Linked DNA regions of Homo sapiens. The protein of the gene in region 1 interacts with the protein of each later gene in a biochemical or structural test. Each region holds a gene or a part of one and is shown in the gene's direction. Other genes may lie near its edges. The genes, in order: DYRK1A, PRKN, SNCA, YWHAE, PTOV1 and CCNL2.

What was found.
Region 2: of the proteins of DYRK1A (region 1) and PRKN, one has a biochemical effect on the other in vitro, tested with the Homo sapiens proteins (one study listed by BioGRID).
Region 3: of the proteins of DYRK1A (region 1) and SNCA, one has a biochemical effect on the other in vitro, tested with the Homo sapiens proteins (one study listed by BioGRID).
Region 4: the proteins of DYRK1A (region 1) and YWHAE form a complex in vitro, tested with the Homo sapiens proteins (one study listed by IntAct).
Region 5: of the proteins of DYRK1A (region 1) and PTOV1, one has a biochemical effect on the other in vitro, tested with the Homo sapiens proteins (one study listed by BioGRID).
Region 6: of the proteins of DYRK1A (region 1) and CCNL2, one has a biochemical effect on the other in vitro, tested with the Homo sapiens proteins (one study listed by BioGRID).

Annotation. Positions count from the first base shown.
Region 1 is NC_000021.9:37,509,773-37,513,272, forward strand, and holds part of DYRK1A (dual specificity tyrosine-phosphorylation-regulated kinase 1A), read left to right. Parts: intron 1-2,138; coding exon 2,139-2,759; 3' UTR 2,760-3,500. UniProt on the Homo sapiens protein: Dual-specificity kinase which possesses both serine/threonine and tyrosine kinase activities. Exhibits a substrate preference for proline at position P+1 and arginine at position P-3.
Region 2 is NC_000006.12:162,441,267-162,444,766, reverse strand, and holds part of PRKN (E3 ubiquitin-protein ligase parkin), read left to right. Parts: intron 1-1,293; coding exon 1,294-1,457; intron 1,458-3,500. UniProt on the Homo sapiens protein: Functions within a multiprotein E3 ubiquitin ligase complex, catalyzing the covalent attachment of ubiquitin moieties onto substrate proteins. Substrates include SYT11 and VDAC1.
Region 3 is NC_000004.12:89,823,662-89,827,161, reverse strand, and holds part of SNCA (alpha-synuclein), read left to right. Parts: intron 1-3,500. UniProt on the Homo sapiens protein: Neuronal protein that plays several roles in synaptic activity such as regulation of synaptic vesicle trafficking and subsequent neurotransmitter release.
Region 4 is NC_000017.11:1,390,223-1,393,722, reverse strand, and holds part of YWHAE (14-3-3 protein epsilon), read left to right. Parts: intron 1-3,500. UniProt on the Homo sapiens protein: Adapter protein implicated in the regulation of a large spectrum of both general and specialized signaling pathways. Binds to a large number of partners, usually by recognition of a phosphoserine or phosphothreonine motif.
Region 5 is NC_000019.10:49,857,659-49,861,158, forward strand, and holds the end of PTOV1 (prostate tumor-overexpressed gene 1 protein), read left to right. Parts: intron 1-34; coding exon 35-124; intron 125-245; coding exon 246-319; intron 320-398; coding exon 399-456; intron 457-688; exon of another isoform or gene 689-769; intron 770-890; coding exon 891-995; intron 996-1,184; exon of another isoform or gene 1,185-1,430; coding exon of another isoform or gene 1,431-1,445; exon of another isoform or gene 1,446-1,518; intron 1,519-1,547; exon of another isoform or gene 1,548-1,631; intron 1,632-2,327; coding exon 2,328-2,525; intron 2,526-2,609; coding exon 2,610-2,621; coding exon of another isoform or gene 2,622-2,661; 3' UTR 2,662-3,084; downstream 3,085-3,500. UniProt on the Homo sapiens protein: May activate transcription. Required for nuclear translocation of FLOT1. Promotes cell proliferation.
Region 6 is NC_000001.11:1,385,211-1,389,335, reverse strand, and holds the end of CCNL2 (cyclin-L2), read left to right. Parts: intron 1-288; exon of another isoform or gene 289-386; intron 387-592; exon of another isoform or gene 593-710; intron 711-825; exon of another isoform or gene 826-844; intron 845-1,270; coding exon 1,271-1,382; intron 1,383-1,466; coding exon 1,467-1,559; intron 1,560-1,753; coding exon 1,754-2,105; 3' UTR 2,106-3,625; downstream 3,626-4,125. UniProt on the Homo sapiens protein: Involved in pre-mRNA splicing. May induce cell death, possibly by acting on the transcription and RNA processing of apoptosis-related factors.

The DNA of each region.
Region 1 (3,500 bases):
TATTTACAAATGGTAGTTTAATAAATAACCCTGTACGGTAGTGTCCCTTCTTATCCACAGTTCCAGTTATTCAGTCAGTCACGGTCCAAAAATATAAAGTGGAAAATTTCAGAAGCAATTCGTAAGTTTTAAATTCTGTTATGAGTAGCACGATGAAATCTCATGCTGTCCCACCCTGGGCATGACTCATCCCTTCGTCTAGCATGTCCACACAGTAGATAAGTTACTTTGCTTTGTAGCCATCTAGATTATCAGATCAAAAAACATAGTATATAGAGGGTTTAGTCCTCTGCAGTTTCAGGCATCCAGTGGGGATCTTGGACTGTATCTCTTGTGGATAAGGAGGCACCACTGTACATGTCTCATTCACACATAGACATTTTATCTGTGATATAAATTCCTGAAAGCAGAATGACTGTTTCAAAGGGTAATGTGATTTATAATTTTGATAACTATTGCCAGATTGCCCCCCATGTGATTTTCTAATCCAGTAACTTGATTAACTTCATATAAAAACCATATAGTATTTTCTGAGAACTCACTGCCAGCTTTTCTACTGATTGTTTTCAGTAGTATCTCTTAAAAGTTTGGTTCTCAGACCACCTTTGTTGAATAAACCCTTAACAATTTGTGCCAGCCACTGGATAGAGACTGAGCCTTTTGCCTTCCTAGAGCTTACAGTGACACAAGTAAATAAAATGAACATGAAGAAAAATGGCAAGTAGCATTAGCTGTTAAAAAGAAAATAAGGATAATTTGGTAGAGAAAGACTGTTTGTTGGATAGGATGTATTAATTAGAATAGGCCAAACTCTGATATAACAGACCCCCAAAATATGGTAGCTTAAAGAGTACCAAGTTTCCTTCATTTTTGTGCAACAGTCCAGAATAGGTGTTCAGGTTAGTGGCTAGGCCGTCTTCCAGGTCCTGATCTCCTACCATCTTGTGGTTCCACCTTGCCCTAGGGCCTACTTGTCTACTGTGTCCAGCAGGCAGAAGGACTTGGGAGGTATTATCTTGTGTGCCAGGCTAGCAGTGACACAAGCTTTCATTCACATTCCATTGACAGCTTAGACATATGGCCATCAGTAAGTACAAGGGAGGCTGGGAAGTGTTGTGTAGCCATGTGCTCAGGAACGAGAAGAATATTGTGCACAACCAGTAGCTTCTGCCACAGTTGTTGAGGCAGCATCAGCCAGAGTGGTCAGGGAAGGCTCTGGAACTGAAGCGATGAAAAAGAGACATCCAAGCAATAAGAAAATCCAAGAAATAACATTTCTAGGCAGAAGGGAGCAGCGTGTTACTAGTACACTGAGGCATTTGAGAGATTTTGACCCAGGGGAGGAATGGAAGGCAGGTCTTCTTTGTTTGGAACTCAGGTAGCCAGGGATAGGATGGGTGGAGAAAGAGGTTAGAGAAGTGGGCATTGGCCAGATGATGCAGATCGTTGTATCCATTTGGGTTTATTTTGTTTTTCTAAGTGCAGTGAGAAGTCATTAAAGGATTTTAAATAGGGAAGTGATTGGATTTGTGTTAAGAAAAGATTGTTCCTGCTACCCTTTGGAGAAGGGCAAGGATGGAAACAAGGAGTTCATTTAAGGGGCTGTTGTGTTAGCGTAGGCAAGAGATGATGGGGATGAAGAGAAGAGGCCAAATTTGGAATCTGTTTCACAGGTAGACTCATAAGTTCTTGCTCATGGGTTGGACAGAGGCATTGTTGAGCAGCTAGGTAGATAGTAGTCCTTTATTGAAAGAAGAAAGATGGAGAGAGGAAGGACATGAGGGAAAAGTAAAGACTTCCTTTTGGACCTGCCCAGAATACTGTCCAGCCCTTTTCAGGAAATATTTGCTGACCCCTGGCATAAACAGGGCTCCCAAGGAAGGACAGTGGCTAGTGAAATAGATGAACCTATTTAAGGATATAACTTCCTAAAAATTGCAGCTTTCATGATGAAATTTTTTGCCCTTGAATGTATTTGGGATTTTGTGTTATAAAACTGTCTTAACACATTAAAAGTTTCAAAAACCGTTTCCCCCTGATTAATATGATGCTAGTTTGTTAGTGTCATGGCTTTTGATGGAAGATTAAAGCTTGGAAACAGTCCTCTGAAAAATCCTTTTAAAAATCTGTTCTTTCAGGTGCGTCAGCAATTTCCTGCTCCTCTTGGTTGGTCAGGCACTGAAGCTCCTACACAGGTCACTGTTGAAACTCATCCTGTTCAAGAAACAACCTTTCATGTAGCCCCTCAACAGAATGCATTGCATCATCACCATGGTAACAGTTCCCATCACCATCACCACCACCACCACCATCACCACCACCATGGACAACAAGCCTTGGGTAACCGGACCAGGCCAAGGGTCTACAATTCTCCAACGAATAGCTCCTCTACCCAAGATTCTATGGAGGTTGGCCACAGTCACCACTCCATGACATCCCTGTCTTCCTCAACGACTTCTTCCTCGACATCTTCCTCCTCTACTGGTAACCAAGGCAATCAGGCCTACCAGAATCGCCCAGTGGCTGCTAATACCTTGGACTTTGGACAGAATGGAGCTATGGACGTTAATTTGACCGTCTACTCCAATCCCCGCCAAGAGACTGGCATAGCTGGACATCCAACATACCAATTTTCTGCTAATACAGGTCCTGCACATTACATGACTGAAGGACATCTGACAATGAGGCAAGGGGCTGATAGAGAAGAGTCCCCCATGACAGGAGTTTGTGTGCAACAGAGTCCTGTAGCTAGCTCGTGACTACATTGAAACTTGAGTTTGTTTCTTGTGTGTTTTTATAGAAGTGGTGTTTTTTTTCCAAAAACAAAGTGCAAAGCTGCTTGAATCAGGAGGAGATTAACACACTGAACCGCTACAAGAGGGCAAAGCTGATTTTTTTTTTAACTTGAAAAGATTGCAAAGGGACATTGAAGTGTTTAAAAGAGCCATGTCCAAACCCATCTTCATGGATAGCTCAGAGGTATCCTCTTTTTGCTCCCCCATTTTAACTTGCCACATCCCAGTCACAGTGGGGTTTTTTTGTCTTTCTATTCAGCAAAAGTTAATATTCAGATGTTGGTCTTGGTCATTTGCCAACTAATTTTAAAGTAAAAGGCACTGCACATAATTTGCATAAAGGGCCCCATGAGGGTGTTTTTTTTTTTTCTTTTTGTCCCCCCCATCCCCCTTTTTTTTTGTTTTGTTCTGTTTTGTTTTGGGTGGGAGGGTGGGAAATTTGGGTTTTTAAGTCCTCTAAACACACTTGGGCACGGAAATGCAGTACTGTAAGGAAGAGGGACCTCCAGCTTCCACAAACACCATCTTCAGCTGTATGAAAGGGACGGTTGTGGTGAAGTTTGTCAGGCACAGTAAGCATGCTGAGTGGCGGGGATCAGAACTCTCCTATCTGAACCTACTGAGGAGCAAAGCAGCAATTACATGGGATCCTGTGGCTCTCCCGTTGCAGAGGCCACAGGAAGATAGGATGGAACGTGACTGGTC
Region 2 (3,500 bases), on another chromosome or scaffold:
CCTAATGCTTCAGGATGTTCTTTTAACCCGTGTGCTATCCTGCTTCCATGAGGAATGTGGTGAATATTAAAAGACATATATAGTAAATGCCACTGGTGCCCTGAATAAGGAAGATCAGGCTTTTGCAGTAGCTGATAGCCAGAAGCTTCTTGGGGGAGGTCACATTTGAAGTGGGCCATGGAGGTAGGCAGGATTTCAATAGGAAGAGGAGAAGGAGGGAGGTCATGAATAAAAGCAAGAAGTTGTGTGCAGCAGTTTTTTGTGATTTTTTTTTTTCTGGGAGCATTTAGTTTAAAAGAGTACACATGGAGATTAATGAAGAAAATGCTGGAATGTAGGTTTGTGCTAGATGAAAGGGATCTTGGAGTCTTTCCTCACCAGCCGACAGTGTGAGACTTAAAGGATTTGAGTGGTGTGACATAGCTCTGTATTAATAAGGCTCATTTTGCAGAACTATGTAGGGCCTTTTGGAGGTGATGGCGTGGATCAAGACTCCAGTTGGGGGCTATTATGAGACTCTAGAAAAGATGTGATGAGAGCGTGACTTCAAGCAGTGAGAGAAAGAATGGAAAGTAAAGGGCAGTGAGAGACGCTGAAGAGGTGGGACAGCAGGTGCAGTGAGAAGACGGCATGCAGACAGACAGACTAGAGGATGCAGCCTGGGTCTCACGGGGAACAGTGGCTTCAATAAGACAAATGGTGTCACTAGTGTCTCCACCCCCTCCCTGCCAAAAAGAGGGCAAATAATTGTCTTCATAGACCCAGTGGAGCATTTTGGCCAGGACCACCCAAGTCTAGGGCTCTGAGCCATAGCCCCGAGTGGGTCTTCACTCTGGTCTATAGAGCAGCTTAGATTTTTTTCCATTGCTATACCTTGAGTGCTAACACATCGCCTCCTATTTTTATTAAGAGGGTCACTGTGGAGGGAGTGTGAGTGTGTACATGCTGTCAGAGCTGAGTCTTTTCAATAAACTCATGGGACTCTTTCAATTCCAATCAAGCAAGTGTCCTGCTCAAGTCTCTCTGTTTCCCAGGATGGATGTCAAAGGGAGAATGCAATTTTGGTTTGCAGGTCACTGACGAATATATGAAAGGGAAATCTCGTGGGTAACTAACTCTGTTTTTCCCAAATATTGCTCTATAGCATTAAGTTTTTTGTTGTAAGTGAAAGAAAATATATACCATTCACTGAAGGGCTGCGAGGGGTAAATCGGTTGAGAAATGTTGCTATCACCATTTAAGGGCTTCGAGTGATGCTCACTTTCTCTTCTCCCTTCCAATTTCCTTGGTCAGTGTTTGTCAGGTTCAACTCCAGCCATGGTTTCCCAGTGGAGGTCGATTCTGACACCAGCATCTTCCAGCTCAAGGAGGTGGTTGCTAAGCGACAGGGGGTTCCGGCTGACCAGTTGCGTGTGATTTTCGCAGGGAAGGAGCTGAGGAATGACTGGACTGTGCAGGTGAGTCTCCCTTGGCGGCCGTTCTTGGGATGCCGCCAGCTCCATTGCTCATGCCGCCTGCGCTGCCAATCTGACATTCATGCCTGAGATCTAATAGAATAAATAGTGCCTGGGGATTCCTTGAACTTTACTCCACACTGCTTCATTAATTCTGACCTTCTTAATTATGCATTAAAACAGCAAGCAGGAAAGATTGGAAGAACAACTGCGAGTGAGAAAGAGAGAGAGAAAGAACACACGAGCTAGGCTTAGTGAATAAATGTCTACTGACTACAGGAGCAGCAAGGCACAATTTCTGTGTCTGTTCAATTTCTACCTTACTTATTCCATTTGAATCTTAACGAAGAAGGATTCGAATAAATTGTTCCCAATCAGGCTGCTCAGTCCCTGCACTGTGAGGAATTTGTAACCCAATTGTGACCCCTGGAGGTTAGTGAGGGCTGCTGCTATGCTGCGCTAGAGGAGGTGTGGGCTCCGGGGCCCATTGGCAACTAGCTTTGGGCACTCCTTGGCCAGGACCAGAATCGCACAGTTCTGCAGCTGATGGGGAAGGAAGCCTGGAGCACAACAACAGTATACCTTTGCATGAATTTCTCCAAGGTTCAGTAACATTGTCCCTGGAAATAGGCCCCTGCAACGTAATAAGTGTGAACGATGCTCTCTTCTCTCCTGGCCCCAGCAGAGCTTCTGGCAGCCCACTGCTCCTAGCCCCATGAAAGCCCTACACACATGTCATTCGGATTGGTGATTTTTGTAGGAATTAGGGGGACTGGTGAGGTGACTGATAATACCACCATCACCTAGAACTAGAGACCCGTCCTTTGTTGGGGAAACTCGCAAATACAACTCAACATTTGTTGACGCTATTCTTTGTGAATGCAAGAAAGACGAAACGCTTTCTGGGAATGGTCCCTGTGACTGTGAAGGACCCTGCAGATGTATGTTCCCCTTTTCTTAACCAGCATCAATTAATTGCACTCAGGTTTACAGCTGTGTGGGTATCACTGCTCCGCGCAGGGGGGCTCCTGGGTCAGAGTACACAAAGTCCGTCCTTGTATCTGCATCCTTTCCCTGTCTCTTGTGGGTAACGATATTTATGGCTTTGTAAAATGCTCTCAGAATTTGGGTATACAAAGAAGCTACAGAAATGCAAATTGTTCCTGTCATTCTGCATTGCATCTCCTGCTGATGGTGTTGAGGCACATACTCGTTGTGCACAAACTGCTGGCCTCTGCTTTCAGGCAATTTGGTTTTATAAGGGAAGTGCATGTGCTAAAAAGGGTTTTGATTTTTTTTTTTTCTATTTCAGTCAACTAAAAAGATTTTCACTGTATCTGCCAACCTCTAAATCCAAGGATGTTTCCTTCACAAATAAATAATTTTAAAACAGCTCCTTGAATCAAAACATTTTATATTGCCAAAACCTTCAGGTTCTAAACTGCCATTTGTGCTGATTCATAAAACAATTAGCGATTTCATATGTAGTTAGACTAATTGCTTCAGATGATTGACTTTGCAAACATATATGCCTAAGACATGTGTTGATTTATGAGTCTATTTTGACAAACACTTCTTAAGCACTTCCAATGTCCTAGGCTTCTCAGGGGATCCAAAAGAGAGACCTAACTCAGCCCCTGTTTTCATGGAGACTGCTCTTTATTTATGAGCCCTAAAACCGAGAGAAATATTAGATTGAACCATATGGGATTGCCATTTTTACAGGTTCAACAATTTCATGTTGTTCAACCTAATAGCTATAATATAAGAATATGAAACATAACTGCCGTATCGCACCTGAAAATATTATGAAGTTTTAAAGGTGGAGAAAACACATCTGGTTGGAAGTCACCAGGAAGAACTTCTTGGATGAATTGAGTTGAGGTAGGATTCTGTAGATGGAGGAATAGGGGAATGAGCATAGAGAATGCTTGCCAAAAAGGATGGGTTCTTGTTCTTCTAGAACCTGAAGAGAGATGTTGAAGATTGGACAAAAAATAAAATATGGGCTATATTTCACATAACCTTGACTAACTTGGCATTGAA
Region 3 (3,500 bases), on another chromosome or scaffold:
TGTGTTTTTTGCAAGATTCTTCACCTCTGTGTGATTTAGCTTCCTCATCTATAAAATAATTCAGTGAATTAATGTACACAAAACATCTGGAAAACAAAAGCAAACAATATGTATTTTATAAGTGTTACTTATAGTTTTATAGTGAACTTTCTTGTGCAACATTTTTACAACTAGTGGAGAAAAATATTTCTTTAAATGAATACTTTTGATTTAAAAATCAGAGTGTAAAAATAAAACAGACTCCTTTGAAACTAGTTCTGTTAGAAGTTAATTGTGCACCTTTAATGGGCTCTGTTGCAATCCAACAGAGAAGTAGTTAAGTAAGTGGACTATGATGCCTTCTAGGGACCTCCTATAAATATGATATTGTGAAGCATGATTATAATAAGAACTAGATAACAGACAGGTGGAGACTCCACTATCTGAAGACGGTCAACCTAGATGAATGGTGTTCCATTTAGTAGTTGAGGAAGAACCCATGAGGTTTAGAAAGCAGACAAGCATGTGGCAAGTTCTGGAGTCAGTGGTAAAAATTAAAGAACCCAACTATTACTGTCACCTGATGATCTAATGGAGACTGTGGAGATGGGCTGCATTTTTTTAGTCTTTTCCAGAATGCCAAAATGTAAACACATATCTGTGTGTGTGTGTGTGTGTGTGTGTGTGTGCGTGTGTGTGAGAGAGAGAGAGAGACTGAAGTTTGTACAATTAGACATTTTATAAAATGTTTTCTGAAGGACAGTGGCTCACAATCTTAAGTTTCTAACATTGTACAATGTTGGGAGACTTTGTATACTTTATTTTCTCTTTAGCGTATTAAGGAATCTGAGATGTCCTACAGTAAAGAAATTTGCATTACATAGTTAAAATCAGGGTTATTCAAACTTTTTGATTATTGAAAACTTTCTTCATTAGTTACTAGGGTTGAATGAAACTAGTGTTCCACAGAAAACTATGGGAAATGTTGCTAGGCAGTAAGGACATGGTGATTTCAGCATGTGCAATATTTACAGCGATTGCACCCATGGACCACCCTGGCAGTAGTGAAATAACCAAAAATGCTGTCATAACTAGTATGGCTATGAGAAACACATTGGGATAAATCGGCTGCTATCATAATCATTCCTCTCCCACATCAGATAAATGAATTAACTTTTTGAATAGGGTTATTTAATATAAAGTGCTTAAGTCTAATTATGAGAAGAAATAAGATAATTACACTTCAATGGTTAAAGAGAGGGAGAATAATTTGCATATTATGCCTGATGTAAAATGTTTATTATGGGTACATATTAAGTGCTAACTAATTGTTAATTGTTCTTGCTACAAGTCTTAATGCAGGGAAACAAGAAATTATTACATAGTACCTAATATTATCTTCTAATATTAAAGAAACAATTTCCCCTAAATTCATCCCATTAGCTTTTTTTTTTTCGGTGGGGCAGGGGAGAAATACAGACTTCAGTAAACTTGGGCTGGGAACTTTCTACCTACAAAGTTCAAATAAAATAAATTATCCTAGTTAGATAATATCAATGAAAAATCCACCAACTTAAATCCTGGCTGTTTGATCTCAGGAAATTATTTCAGTTATCAACTTAATGCATCATATTATAGAAATATATGAAAATGTGTTTAATTAAACTTACTGAATGATATGTTTTTTCAGGTACTTTAAAAATAAACTATGATATAAAGTTACCTATTTTTCATGCAAGTATAGTATAAAGAAATTTCTAACACTGGAGATTTTCTGAAGGTTTTGATTCTTATAAATTTATTACATCATAATGAACAAAACTAATTTTCAACATATTATGATTTAAATTTCCTTAGTAAATTGTTTCAAATTTATTTTCTTTAAATCCATATTTACATATGTATATTTAAATATACATATTTACTTGTATAACAATTCAAAACCATATATTAATTTTATAATTTTGTTTAATGTCAAAGGTTAGATTTGGCTATATCTATTCTAAAAGTTGGTATCACATTTCCTTTTTGGAATTTTATTTTTAAAGTAGCTAAAGTCAAATATAAACCTATTATTTATATTAATGCAGACATTAGAGGTAGACACTAAATTCATTTTAGTATATTCTAAATTATTTATTATCTACTATGAAATAATATAAAGAAAAATAAAGCAGAATCCCTGATTTCAAAGAACTCAATTGCCGAAAAACAGTTACCATTTATTAGACCCAAAATGTACTAATATGAGTGTGTCTCTTTTCCTTTTGTTTTGTCACCCGTCATTTGGAATGTCAGTGAGTAGAGAGATAGTGTGAAAGGCCCTCAAGGGGAAAAATAGAGGTTAAAGGTCAGCAGAGACCCTACTAGAGAAATCAGTTCTACAGAAATGTTTTTAAATGTGTCGATTATTGCTACATGTACACTCTGTCATTTTGTAATGTAGCCATTTTATTTATGATTATAATAATAAAACAACAAAATTATAATAATGTGTAGAGTACATTTTACTGTGCAGTGTATTGCATTAAAACTAGATTAAAATTTATACATATATAAAAGGCTATCTAGATATTATAAAATTTATGGCTGGATCTGTAAAAAATTCAAAACCTATTTTTAATCTCGCTTTGAGATTTTATAACAAGAAAATGTTCGTTTCAAGCAAAATTTTCAATTCACGTCCTTGAAAAGGAAAAAAATGACAACTTGAAACACATAATTGACTATTTTTAAAGGATCAACATTTCAGAAATGTTTTAAAACATAAGATTTTCAGTACAGCTTTTCGCTGGCATTTAAATCGAACTTTGAATTGTAAATAGCTCTTGCTCTTAAGGAGACATCAGCCATATCCTTAGAAGTGGCACGGAGTTGTTAGGTAGTTGTACAAAATTCTAGCCTAAAAGACAAATAGGGAGCAACACTACTGTGGACCGTTTCTGGTCTTGGGCTGTGTGGCTATGTCAGGCTTGCCCACATTGCCTGTACTAAGGAGAAAGCCTCTTGTCCTTACAGACCCCCTTAGCTTACATAGTCTATTTGAAAACAAATTGCTTTGTCCACACCATTTAAATATTGGCTTCAGGCCAGGCGCGGTGGCTCACGCCTGTTATCCCAGCACTTTGGGAGGCTGAGGCGGGCAGATCACGAGGTCAGGAGATCGAGACCATCCTGGCTAACACGGTGAAACCCTGTCTCTACTAAAAATATAAAAAAATTAGCCGGGTGTGGTGGCGCGCACCTGTAGTCCCAGCTGCTGGGGAGGCTGAGGCAGGAGAATGGCCTGAACCCGGGAGTCGGAGTTTGCAGTGAGCCGACATCGTGCCACTGCACTCCAGCCTGGGTGACAGAGCAAGACTCCGTCTCAAAATAAATAAATAAATAAATAAATAAGTAAATATTGGCTTCTTCAACTGGTGAGATGAAACCTATACAATAGTCATGTGAATAGCACTAAACAGCTGACATGGTGTAACTCCTCTCAGACTGAGGCTTATCTGGGGAGTACAAAGCATGTC
Region 4 (3,500 bases), on another chromosome or scaffold:
CGCGGCTCAAACACCTGCAATCCCAGCACTGTGGGAGGCCGAGGTGGGCGGATCACCTGAGGTCAGGAGTTTGAGACCATCCTGACCAACATGGTGAAAACCAGTCTCTACTAAAAATACAAAAATTAGCTGGCCTGTGATGGCTTGTGCCTTTAGTCCCAGCTACTGAGGAGGCTGAGGTGGGAAATCGCTTGACCCTGGGAGGTGGAGATTGCAGTGAGCCCACATCGCACCATTGCACTCCAGTCTGGGCCACAGAGGGAGAGCCTGTCTCAAGAAAAGAAAAGCCCCGTAGTTTATCATAATGTCTGTACTGGGATATGGCTGATGCTATGCATTTCTGTAAAGTAGCTTTAAAATATTTTCTCCTCTCACTTTTATCTTTTTCCTTTTTTTTTTTTTGAGACAGGGTCTCACTTGGTCACCCAGGCTGTAGTGCAGTGGTGCGATCTTGGCTCACTGCAGCCTCTACCTTCCAGTCTCAGGTGATCCCCCCACCTCAGCCTCTTAAGTAGCTGTTTTTTTTGTTTGTTTGTATGTTTTTAAATTTTATTTATTTATTTATTTATTTATTTATTTATTTATTTTTTGGAGAGATGGAGTCTTGCTCTGTCACCCAGGCTGGAGTGCTGGAGTACAGTGGCGCGATCCACCACTCCCAGCTAATTTCTTTTGTGTTTTAGTAGAGATGGGGTTTCACCATGTTGCCCAGGCTGGTCTTGGAATTCCTGGACTCAAGCAATCTGTCAGACTTGGCCTCCCAAAGTGCTGGGATTATAGGCGTGAGCCACCACCCCCGGCCACCTTTGTCTTAGTGAATGCTATTAAGTTGTTAGGTTAGTGATGTAGTCATACAACTTTTTTTTTTTTTTGAGATGGATTTTCCCTCTTGTCATTCAGGCTGGAGTGCAGTGGCGTGATCTTGGCTCACTGCAGCCTCCGCCTCCTGGGCTCAAGTGATTCTCCTGCCTCAGCCTCCCGAGTAGCTGAGACTACAGACTTGGGCCATCATGCTTGGCTAATTTTTGTATTTTTAGTAGAGACAGAGTTTCACCATATTAGCCAGGCTGGTCTTCAACTCCTGACCTCAGGTAGTCCGCCTGCCTCAGCCTCCCAAAATGCTGGGATTATAGGTGTGAGCCACCGCACCCGGCCAGATATAGACATACAACTTCTAGGAGGGACAAAGGTTGGCATATGATTCACCAGTGTTGTTCCGGGTGGTTGGCTAGATAGCTGTCTAATGGAATCCATTAAGGAGTAGGAAAGAGCAGCAAGAAAAATGGCTATTTTCACTATTTTTGAAATGGTCAGTTAACAGTTTGAGATAGATACATATACTTTTTTGAGACAAGGTCTTGCTTTGTTGGCCAGGCTTGGATTGCATTGATGCAGTAACGATTCACTGCATCCTCAACCTCCCAGGCCCAAATGATCATCCCATCTCAGCCTCCCACTTAGCTGGGCCCACAGCTGTGCACCACAATACCTGGATAATTTAAAAGAACTTTTTTTTCTTTTTCTTTTTCTTTTTTCCCGAGACAAGATCTCAGTATATTACTCAGGCTGGGATGCAGTGTCACATTTATGGCTCACTGCAGCTTTGACCCCCTGGGCACCTCAGCATGCCAAGTAGCTGGGGCTACAGAAGTATACCACCACTTCTGGCTAATTTTTGTAGAGACAGGATTTTACCATGTTGCCCAGGTCTTGAACTCGAGCTCAAGATTCACCTGCCTCGGCCTCCCAAAGTTTTGCGATTACAGGCGTGAGCCACCATGGCTGGCAAAAAAATTTTTTTGGTAGAGGCCTGGTCCCAGCGGATTGCCCAGGCTGATGTTGAACTCCTGAGCTCATGTGATCTTCCCACCAGGTAGCTGGTACCGCCATGACCAGCTAATTAAAACTTTTTTTTTGTGGAGACGGGATCCCACTGTGTTGTCCAGGTAACTCCTGGGTTCAAGCGATCCTCCCACTGTGGCCTCCCCAAAGTGCAGGGATTATAGGCATGAACCACTGCGCCCGGCCAGCTTGATATATTTAGGTATTGATATATCCAAATTGACGAATTGGTTGCCAACAGAACCTCATGGTTCTCTGACTAAATGTTAATGCTAGTCATGGCCCTAAGAACAATTTCAGATGTTCATTTAAATTTATTAAATTGTAGCAAATAATAATGAAAGTCACCATAATTTAACATCCACATGAGTATATCTTGAAAAGACAGACTAATTCATCAGCTACAACAGCAGGCATAAACTGGGATTGTCCTGGGCAACAAACTTGCCTTGTGGTCACCCTACTTAATGGCCATTTGTTACTAGATTTTGTCATTTAGACTCATACAACAGTTTCCTAAACGTTGTCCAGCTTTTTATCACAGAGATAGCTTAGATCTACGTCTCTAGGAGGTTGAATTTTTTTTTTTCAAATGAAGTTAGCCTTTGGCAGAATATAAGTCAAAGGAAAAGTGAAAATTTCCTCCTCCTAGCTCCCTCCCCCACAAATGGGAACGTGCTAGTTAAGGATGTGGTAGTTGCTGAAAATAGAGCTTGCTGGCATTCCAAATCCTCTGATGGTGTCAACACCTAGTGTGTTGGTTTTCTTATGGCTACCTTGAGCCAGTTCTGTGTTTAAAAATATAATAGACCTAGGTGTTGGTAGCAGTGTCCTAAGCTCAGAGCTTTCCCTACATACATTTTATTTTTTTATTTTTACAAGTGTCTTTCATACCAAATACCCACATAAAAATTTAAAGGCTCACCCATATCTTGTTACAACTGTTATGTTTAGAATGCCAAACTGTGTAGTTCAGACCATATGACCATGATCCTGGCTTATCTCTTCTGAAATTTTTATCTTGAATTTATTGCCCTTCCAACAATCTACCATAGTAGCTGGACGGATCTGTTGTTGGTGGGCTTGATTTGTGATCAGATCAGGATTTTATCGAGCTAAAGCAATATGAAATGTGTTTAACTCTTCATTCATATCTAAAGTTTGAAGGAGATGCATTACTGTAAGAGTTATGACAGTATTTCATCATTTGGCAGATGTGGTAAATCTGCCATCACAGAATGCACAGGAATCACTGGGTTCCTTATCTTTCAAATGGGGATTAGTGATGTCTCTCTTGCCTACTAATTTGCAGGGTGGTTATGAAATTTTGGGCTTTTGTAAACTGTAAAGTGTAATACTTGTCGGTACTATTTGTTGTGAAACATTCTTATCTAATGTGAAAGGTCAGATAATTGTTTTTGTTACTGCTGTGCTAGGATCATATTAGATGATAACCTACCTTTTTGAGTTATTCTTAGCAAGTGTAGTCTTCTGGGCTTAGTCCTTATGTAAGATATGCACAAAGAAATATTCTCAAAATCCTTAATCTTACATCTGTAAATTTGCATATCCAAAGTAAAGGTCGTCCAGATTATTCCCAAATAATAATTTTGTCATGTTGAGCTGGTATATAGTTGTTTTGATATTAATTTTAGATT
Region 5 (3,500 bases), on another chromosome or scaffold:
GGGCCCCTCTTCCCACCCCGTTCCCTTCCAACAGGCAGTGGGACCTGGTGGTGTCAACTCAGGCCCAGTCCAGATCGTCAACAACAAGTTTCTGGCATGGAGTGGTGTCATGGAGTGGCAGGAGGTGAGCACTCGGCAGCCCAGGGACTTGGGACCCCCAGATCCTCACGGACTGTGGCTGGGAGGGGACACTGGCATTGGGGGTCTCCAGCCCTGAGGGCTCCTCTTTGCCTCTCCCCCAAAAGCCCAGGCCTGAGCCCAACAGTCGGTCCAAGAGGTGGCTGCCATCCCACGTCTACGTGAACCAGGGGGAGATCCTGTGAGTGCTGGGCTGGGGGGTGGAGGCAGCATCCAGGGGAGCTGGGGCTTCCTGACCCTCGTCCCTTTGTGCCCCACAGGAGGACCGAGCAGTGGCCAAGGAAGCTGTACATGCAGCTCATCCCGCAGCAGCTGCTGGTGAGGGGCTGGGGCCGGGTGCTGGAGCCTGCACGCAGTAGCTCTTCCAGAGGGCGGGGCTGGGGGCAAGAGCGCCTCCCCAGGTGGCCTGAGCTGGCTGTGAGGGAGCGGAGCTGAGGGTGCTGAAGCAGGTGTGGTGGGTAGCTCCTCAGGCTTGGCTTCAAGGGGTCCCAGGCAGCCAGCTGGTGGCTGTGCAGGGACTGAGCGGGGCAGGGGCAGCCACGACCTGCACCTGGGGGGCTGCCAAGGGATCTGAGAGCGGCTTCCACAGCACTCCAGGGTTGGGCTGGTTGAGCGGTGGAGATGACGTTTCCTGAGGTAGGGAGGACAGGGGAGTCTCAGTTTGGTCCTGGGCCCGGGGGACTCAGCGGGCTGGGAGCCGGGAGGCCGTGGTGGGAGAAGCCAGAGCTGGGGGTCCCCTCGCTTCCCCGCAGACCACCCTAGTGCCGCTGTTCCGGAACTCGCGCCTGGTCCAGTTCCACTTCACCAAGGACCTGGAGACACTGAAGAGCCTGTGCCGGATCATGGACAATGGCTTCGTGAGTGGTGCCAGCAGACGCAGGGGAGGGGCCGGCCAGGGCAGAGCGAGCCCGGACCGCTCACGGGGGCGGACATGGGAGAGGAACAGAGCACCATGTCCCAGACCAGCTGGGGAGAGAGGGTGGCTAGTGTGGGCGTGACTTCTGGGGGCTCTGTGCTGTCCCCACGGCACTGGATGGGGCACTGACCCTGGTTCTGCGGGGGCCTGCTCCTCCTCTGCCACATCAGGGCTGACTCAGCACCAACTCCGCGCTCTCCACTCCTCAGGGACAGGCGCCCTTGTCACTCCTGGTTTCCCGGGAGCTTGTGCCACATCCCAAAGGCCCATTGCTGGGCAGGGAGGGCTGTCTGCCCCCAGCAAGGTCCCAGAATATTTGGCGATTGTCTTATCTGGGGGAGGCTCAGCTGACTCCTCTTCTCTCTCTCGGGCTCAGTTTCTCCATCTGTGAGGTGGAGAAGGTTGGACTTTGGTGTTTCTGAGCCCTCCCCCCGATGTCCACCTTCCAGCTGGGCCATACTTGGGTAATATCCCGAAACTACCTTAAAATTACCTTCGACTCAGTCTGAGTAAACTGTCCACGAAGCTGTTCGTGGGTGGGGGGGGCCTGGGTGTAGGTGCTTTTACATGAAAGCAATTTCAAGCATTCCCTCAGGGGCCGGGTGCGGTGGCTCACGCCTGCAATCCCAGCACTTTGGGAGGCCGAGGCGGGTGGATCACCTGAGGTCAGGAGTTTGAGACCAGCCTGGCCAACATGGTGAAACCCCGTCTCTACTAAAAATACAAAAATTAGCCAGGCATGATGGCCACTCAGGAGGCTGAGTCACAAGAATGGCTTGAACCCGGGAGGCAGAGGTTGCAGTGAGCTGAGATCATGCCATTGTACTCCAGCCTGGGCGACAAGAGCGAAACTCAGTCTCAAAAAAAAAAAAAAAGTTTCCTCAAGGAAACCCAGAAAGGCTCCATGTACCTCAGCCCTTGCTTGTGCTGGGCCGGCCGCTGCAGATCCCTCGGGCTCCTGAGTTGAAGCCATGGCCGGTTGGCTCAGGTGGCTGTGGTGAGGTGGCCCCAGACACAGCCTGGCCTGCCCAGGAGCTCTGAAATGCAGGTTCTTGGGCCCTTCCCGACAGAGCCTGTTGGCCTTTGGCCCACCCATTGCTCTTGGCCACCGTGTCATCCCAATAAGGGGGCCCACCTCCAGGGTGGGTGGGGGGTGTGAGGACAGAGCAGTTAGGCTGTGCCTGGCTCATGGAGCCCACGGCATGATGCCGTGGTTGGAGGGATGCTGGTCCCTGTGGTGCTGTCTGGTGACACCACGCCCTGTGCCTGCCAGGCCGGCTGCGTGCACTTTTCCTACAAAGCATCGTGTGAGATCCGCGTGCTTATGCTCCTGTACTCTTCAGAGAAGAAAATCTTCATTGGCCTCATCCCCCATGACCAGGGCAACTTTGTCAACGGCATCCGGCGTGTCATTGCCAACCAGCAGCAGGTCCTGCAGCGGAACCTGGAGCAGGAGCAACAGCAACGAGGGGTGAGGTGGCCGGCCTCCAGGGCTGCTCAGTCTCCCTCCACCCCCGCTGCCTGCTCACCACTGGCCTCTGATTTCTCGCCGTAGATGGGGGGGTAGTGGTTACCCCGGGCTGGGCCCCTCCAGGAGTCACAGATGAGGCCCCCGCAGAGACTGGTGAGTGGTGACCCTGTCATGTACAGGAGGGACCCTGGGGCATGTGGGGGGGGTGGGGTTGGGAAAGAAGCAGGGCGACCTTGGCCTTGGGGAGAGCAGAGCAGAGGGAGAGGCAGCAGTCCCAGCGGTCCTAGGCTGTCGGGAAACTGCAGCCCAGCCTCAGGGCCATGGGAGGTGGTATCCAGGCCTGGGTGGGGCCAGGCCTCTGCTCACAGGGATGTGGGGTCAGTGCTTGGGAGCCTGTGGCCAGCAGCCCCCACTGCACCCCTGCCCCCAGGTGACACGCTTCTGAGCAGGGGCCCCTGGGGACTTCAACTGCCCAGCAACATGGAGGATGGTGTCCTGAGGCCTCCAAGGACGGTCCCCACCCCTCTACGTTTCCCCAATAAAGCCTTTTAAAAACCTGCCTGCCTTCTCTGCTCACTGCCCGATGCCTTGCAGCCCCCTAGCTCTAAGGTGGCCCAGCAGGCTGGACAGCCCGGGAACTCACTGGGTCTGGCTCTCGGCTGTCCACACCCTCTTCCCCCCCGAATCTCCAGACCCGCAGGCCTTGGGTTCAAGTTCAGTGTCACAGAACCTGAGCTGGATTTTGTCCTCAGGGGTCACACCTGGCCTTGAGCCAGCCCCTCGGTTGAGGCTCGTGGGCTCACCAGCTGGCTCTCGGGGGGCCACACAGCGCCCTCCCTGTGTGTTCCCCGGCTAATGTCTAAAGTGCTCATGCCAGGTCCCAGCTGGACTCCCCTCGGTAGGGCCCCACCTTTTGTTACCTGAAAATGTCCTTAAAGCCTCCTCCATGTAAGAAACTGGCAGGCCTGGAGCCCC
Region 6 (4,125 bases), on another chromosome or scaffold:
GTGCAGTGGTGCGATCTCAGCTCATTGCAAGCTCCACCTCCCGGGTTCATGCCATTCTCCTGCCTCAGCCTCCTGAGTAGCTGGGACTACAGGTGGCCGCCACCACGCCTGGCTAATTTTTTGTATTTTTAGTAGATATGGTGTTTCACCGTGTTAGCCAGGATGGTCTCAATCTGGCTTCGTGATCCACCCGCCTCGGCCTCCCAAAGTGCTGGGATTACAGGCATGAGCCACTGCACCCGGCCTGCATTTCTTTTTTTGAGACAGAGTTTCTGTCTTGTTACCCAGGCTGGAGTGCAATGGCGCTGTCTCAGCTCACTGTAACCTCTGCCTCCCGGGTTCAAGCGATTCTCCTGCCTCAGCCTCCCAAGTAGCTGGGATTGCAGGTACCCGCCACCACACTGAGCTAATTTTGTATTTTTAGTAGAGATGGGGTTTCTCCATTTTGGTCAGACTGGTCTTGAACTCCTGATCTCAGTTGATCTGCCCGCCTTGGCCTCCCAAAGTGCTGGGATTACAGGTGGGAGCCACTATACCCAGCTTTTTTTTTTTTTTTTTTTTTTCTGAGACGGAGTCTTACTCTGTTGCCCAGCCTGGAGTGCAGTGGCGCTATCTGGGATCACTGCAAGCTCCGCCTACCAGATTCTGGTGATTCTTGTGCCTCAGCCTCCCAAGTAGCTGGGATTGCAGGCGCCCACCACCACGCTCAGGTAATTTGTGTGTGAGTGTGTGTCTATGTATATATATATATAGAGAGAGAGAGAGAGAGACACACACTCACATGTTTTGGGGTTTTTTTGTTTTGTTTTGTTTTTCTTGAGACAGAGTCTCGCTGTGTTGCCAGGTGAGTACTGTGGCGTGATCTCGGCTCACTGTAACCTCCGCCTCCTGGGTCCAAGCGATTCTTCTGCTTCAGCCTCTGGAGTAGCTGGGACTACAGGCGCGTGCCACCAAGCCCAGCTAATTTTTGTAGTTTTAGTAGAGATGGGGTTTCACCATGTTGGGCAGGATGGTCTCAATGTATTGACTTTGTGATCCGCCCTCCTCGGCCTCCCGAAGTGCTGGGCTCACAGGCGTGAGCCCCCGCGTCCAGCCCCATCTGCATTTCTGTGATGTCTGTGTAAGTTCTGGGTCCCAGCTGGGAGCCGGAAGTTACAGTCTGCTTGCGTCGCTGTTTGACCTGTAGAGGGGCCTTATCTCGCTCTACGAACTTGTTTCTTATTGGGAGAGTGTTTTGTGGTTGGCTTTTAACCTCTTGTTCTGATTCTAGTGGAATCCCCCAAAGAAGGTAAAGGGAGCAAGCCTTCCCCACTGTCTGTGAAGAACACCAAGAGGAGGCTGGAGGGCGCCAAGAAAGCCAAGGCGGACAGCCCCGTGAACGGGTAGGACCCCAGGGCTGCCCAGGTGGCTGTCAGGGTTGGCTGGAGGGACTTCTGCTTTGTAACTGGCTCCTGTCCTGTTCACAGCTTGCCAAAGGGGCGAGAGAGTCGGAGTCGGAGCCGGAGCCGTGAGCAGAGCTACTCGAGGTCCCCATCCCGATCAGCGTCTCCTAAGAGGAGGTGTGTGCCTCAGGGCGCACCCAGGAGGCCGATACCGGGGTGGGGCTGTCCCTCGGGGTAATCATTCTCACCCTGAGGTGGTTTCTTGTTTCTCTAAACCTGGAGCTTGTGTGTCTTGTCTGAGCTCCTGTGGGTGTGTGGGGCCTGGCCGGGCCAGATGGTCACACGTGTGGTGGTGCTGTTCTTCCTCCCAGGAAAAGTGACAGCGGCTCCACATCTGGTGGGTCCAAGTCGCAGAGCCGCTCCCGGAGCAGGAGTGACTCCCCACCGAGACAGGCCCCCCGCAGCGCTCCCTACAAAGGCTCTGAGATTCGGGGCTCCCGGAAGTCCAAGGACTGCAAGTACCCCCAGAAGCCACACAAGTCTCGGAGCCGGAGTTCTTCCCGTTCTCGAAGCAGGTCACGGGAGCGGGCGGATAATCCGGGAAAATACAAGAAGAAAAGTCATTACTACAGAGATCAGCGACGAGAGCGCTCGAGGTCGTATGAACGCACAGGCCGTCGCTATGAGCGGGACCACCCTGGGCACAGCAGGCATCGGAGGTGAGGCGGGGTTGCAGTGACTGGTGGCCGCAAGCCCTTCCCTGGGGAGTACCTGATGGCTGCCCTTTGACCCCCGGTGGCTGCCCTTTGACCCCCGGGTGTGCTCTCAGCGCAAGTGGTCCTAGAACAGGATTCTTTTTGGAAATGTCTGTCGACTGGACCTTGGTGGATTTGGAAATGGAACTGAGGGACCGGTGACACGTGCTTCAGACCGGTCTGGGGTGCGGCGCACACCTGGGCCCGTGCAGGGCTCAGCTCGGCAGCAGCTCTGAGGGCAGCTCAATGAAAAAGTGAATGCACACGCCCTTGTTGGCGTGGCCTGGCATGGCCTGGTGCTATCGGCAGCCGCTCTCCACTCCCCGACTGATACTCAATTACGTGAAGCCAAGAAAGATGATTTTTAGAACCTTTGCCTATATTAGGTTGTACTTATGTACATATTTTGCAGTGTTTCACAGGAGAAAGTGGCCTTAACTGCCCCTTATTCTCTCTCCACGTTGTAAATAAACATGTGTTTAATACAAGTTAAAGCTATGTATGAAAACTCAGAACTTGAATCCCGTCAGCTTAAAACTTGTGTAGGGAATCCTGACTTTTAAAATGTGAGGGTATTTGGATCTGTGTTGAAAGTCGTATATTTTTATCTGTGCGGTGCTGAGTGCAGGCCACCAGCTCCTAAATAGAGGTTCCCTATATGCGCGTATGACATGGTGAATAAACACAACTCTCTCCACTCAGGACATCCGGAGCGTTATGGACGTGGTAGGTGGTCGTTCTGTGTGCTTGTGAAAGTGTCCAGGCGTGTGCACAGCCAGTGCGCCCACTTCCGGGCTCCTTGCTCCCTGCTGTACTGAAGTTTTGGATTTTGCATCCAATCCTGTGTGCCTGCCCTTCTGCCGAAGGCTTGTGAGGGGCCTGAGTCCTCTGCCCATCAGGATGACAGGCTCCTTCCTGCAGGGCCATAGGAGGGAAGTTTTGGAAACACAGAATGATTCCAAGGTGCTCTCGTTCCTGAGGGGGACTGGTTTGTAACCCATGACATCTGTGGGCGAGAGAGGCAGCTGGGAGCAGGACACTTGGAGGGTCACCCCACGGGGGTGGCACCTGCACTCTGAGTGCCCCCCACTGTCATCAGCTGCCTCTTACCGTGGACACAGTTTTGGTTTTGGGGACTAGGGGGCCCCACTCCTGGTGGTACCGTTTGGACTTACTAGGGCAGTGGGACATATAGGCCGGGGCTAGTGGGATAACGGGGAGTTACGCCTGATGACTTTTTTGATGGAATCCTGCATTAGATAGCTGGTGGGACCCCCCCTCAGAATTGGGGAACTGAGGAGACTCCAGGGAGGGTGTCCTTCCAGGGAGAGCAGCTATGAGGGGCCCCCTAGCTTCCTGTGCCTGGAAGTAAGAGAACCAGTAAAGGGCCATACACACCTGTACCCAAGAGACCGCTCTCCATTTGCTTTCTTTTTTTACTAAATAATTGTAAAATATTATTATGACATAAAGAACCATTTAAGGCCAGATTTTATGTTCTCCTAATTTGCATTGCGCCCAAATGGTGTTGCAGTAGAAAATGAGTTTTGGCCGCGTGGTGGGAGGCCGGGCGCGGTGGCTCAGGCCTGTAATCCCAGCGCCGTGGGAGGCCGGGCGCGGTGGCTCAGGCCTGTAATCCCAGCGCCGTGGGAGGCCGGGCGCGGTGGCTCACGCCTGTAATCCCAGCGCTGTGGGAGGCCGGGCGAGGTGGCTCACGCCTGTAATCCCAGCGCTGTGGGAGGCCGGGCGCGGTGGCTCATGCCTGTAATCCCAGTGCTGTTGGGAGACCGGGTGCTGTGGCTTACGCCTGTAATCCCAGCACTGTGGGAGGCTGAGGCAGGCGGATCACGAAGTCAGGAGATTGAAACCATCCTGGCCAACATGGTGAAACACTGTCTCTACTAAAAATACAAAAATTAGCTGGGTGTGGTGCTGCGTCCCTGTAATCCCAGCTACTCAGGAGGCTGAGGCAGGAGAATCACTTGAAC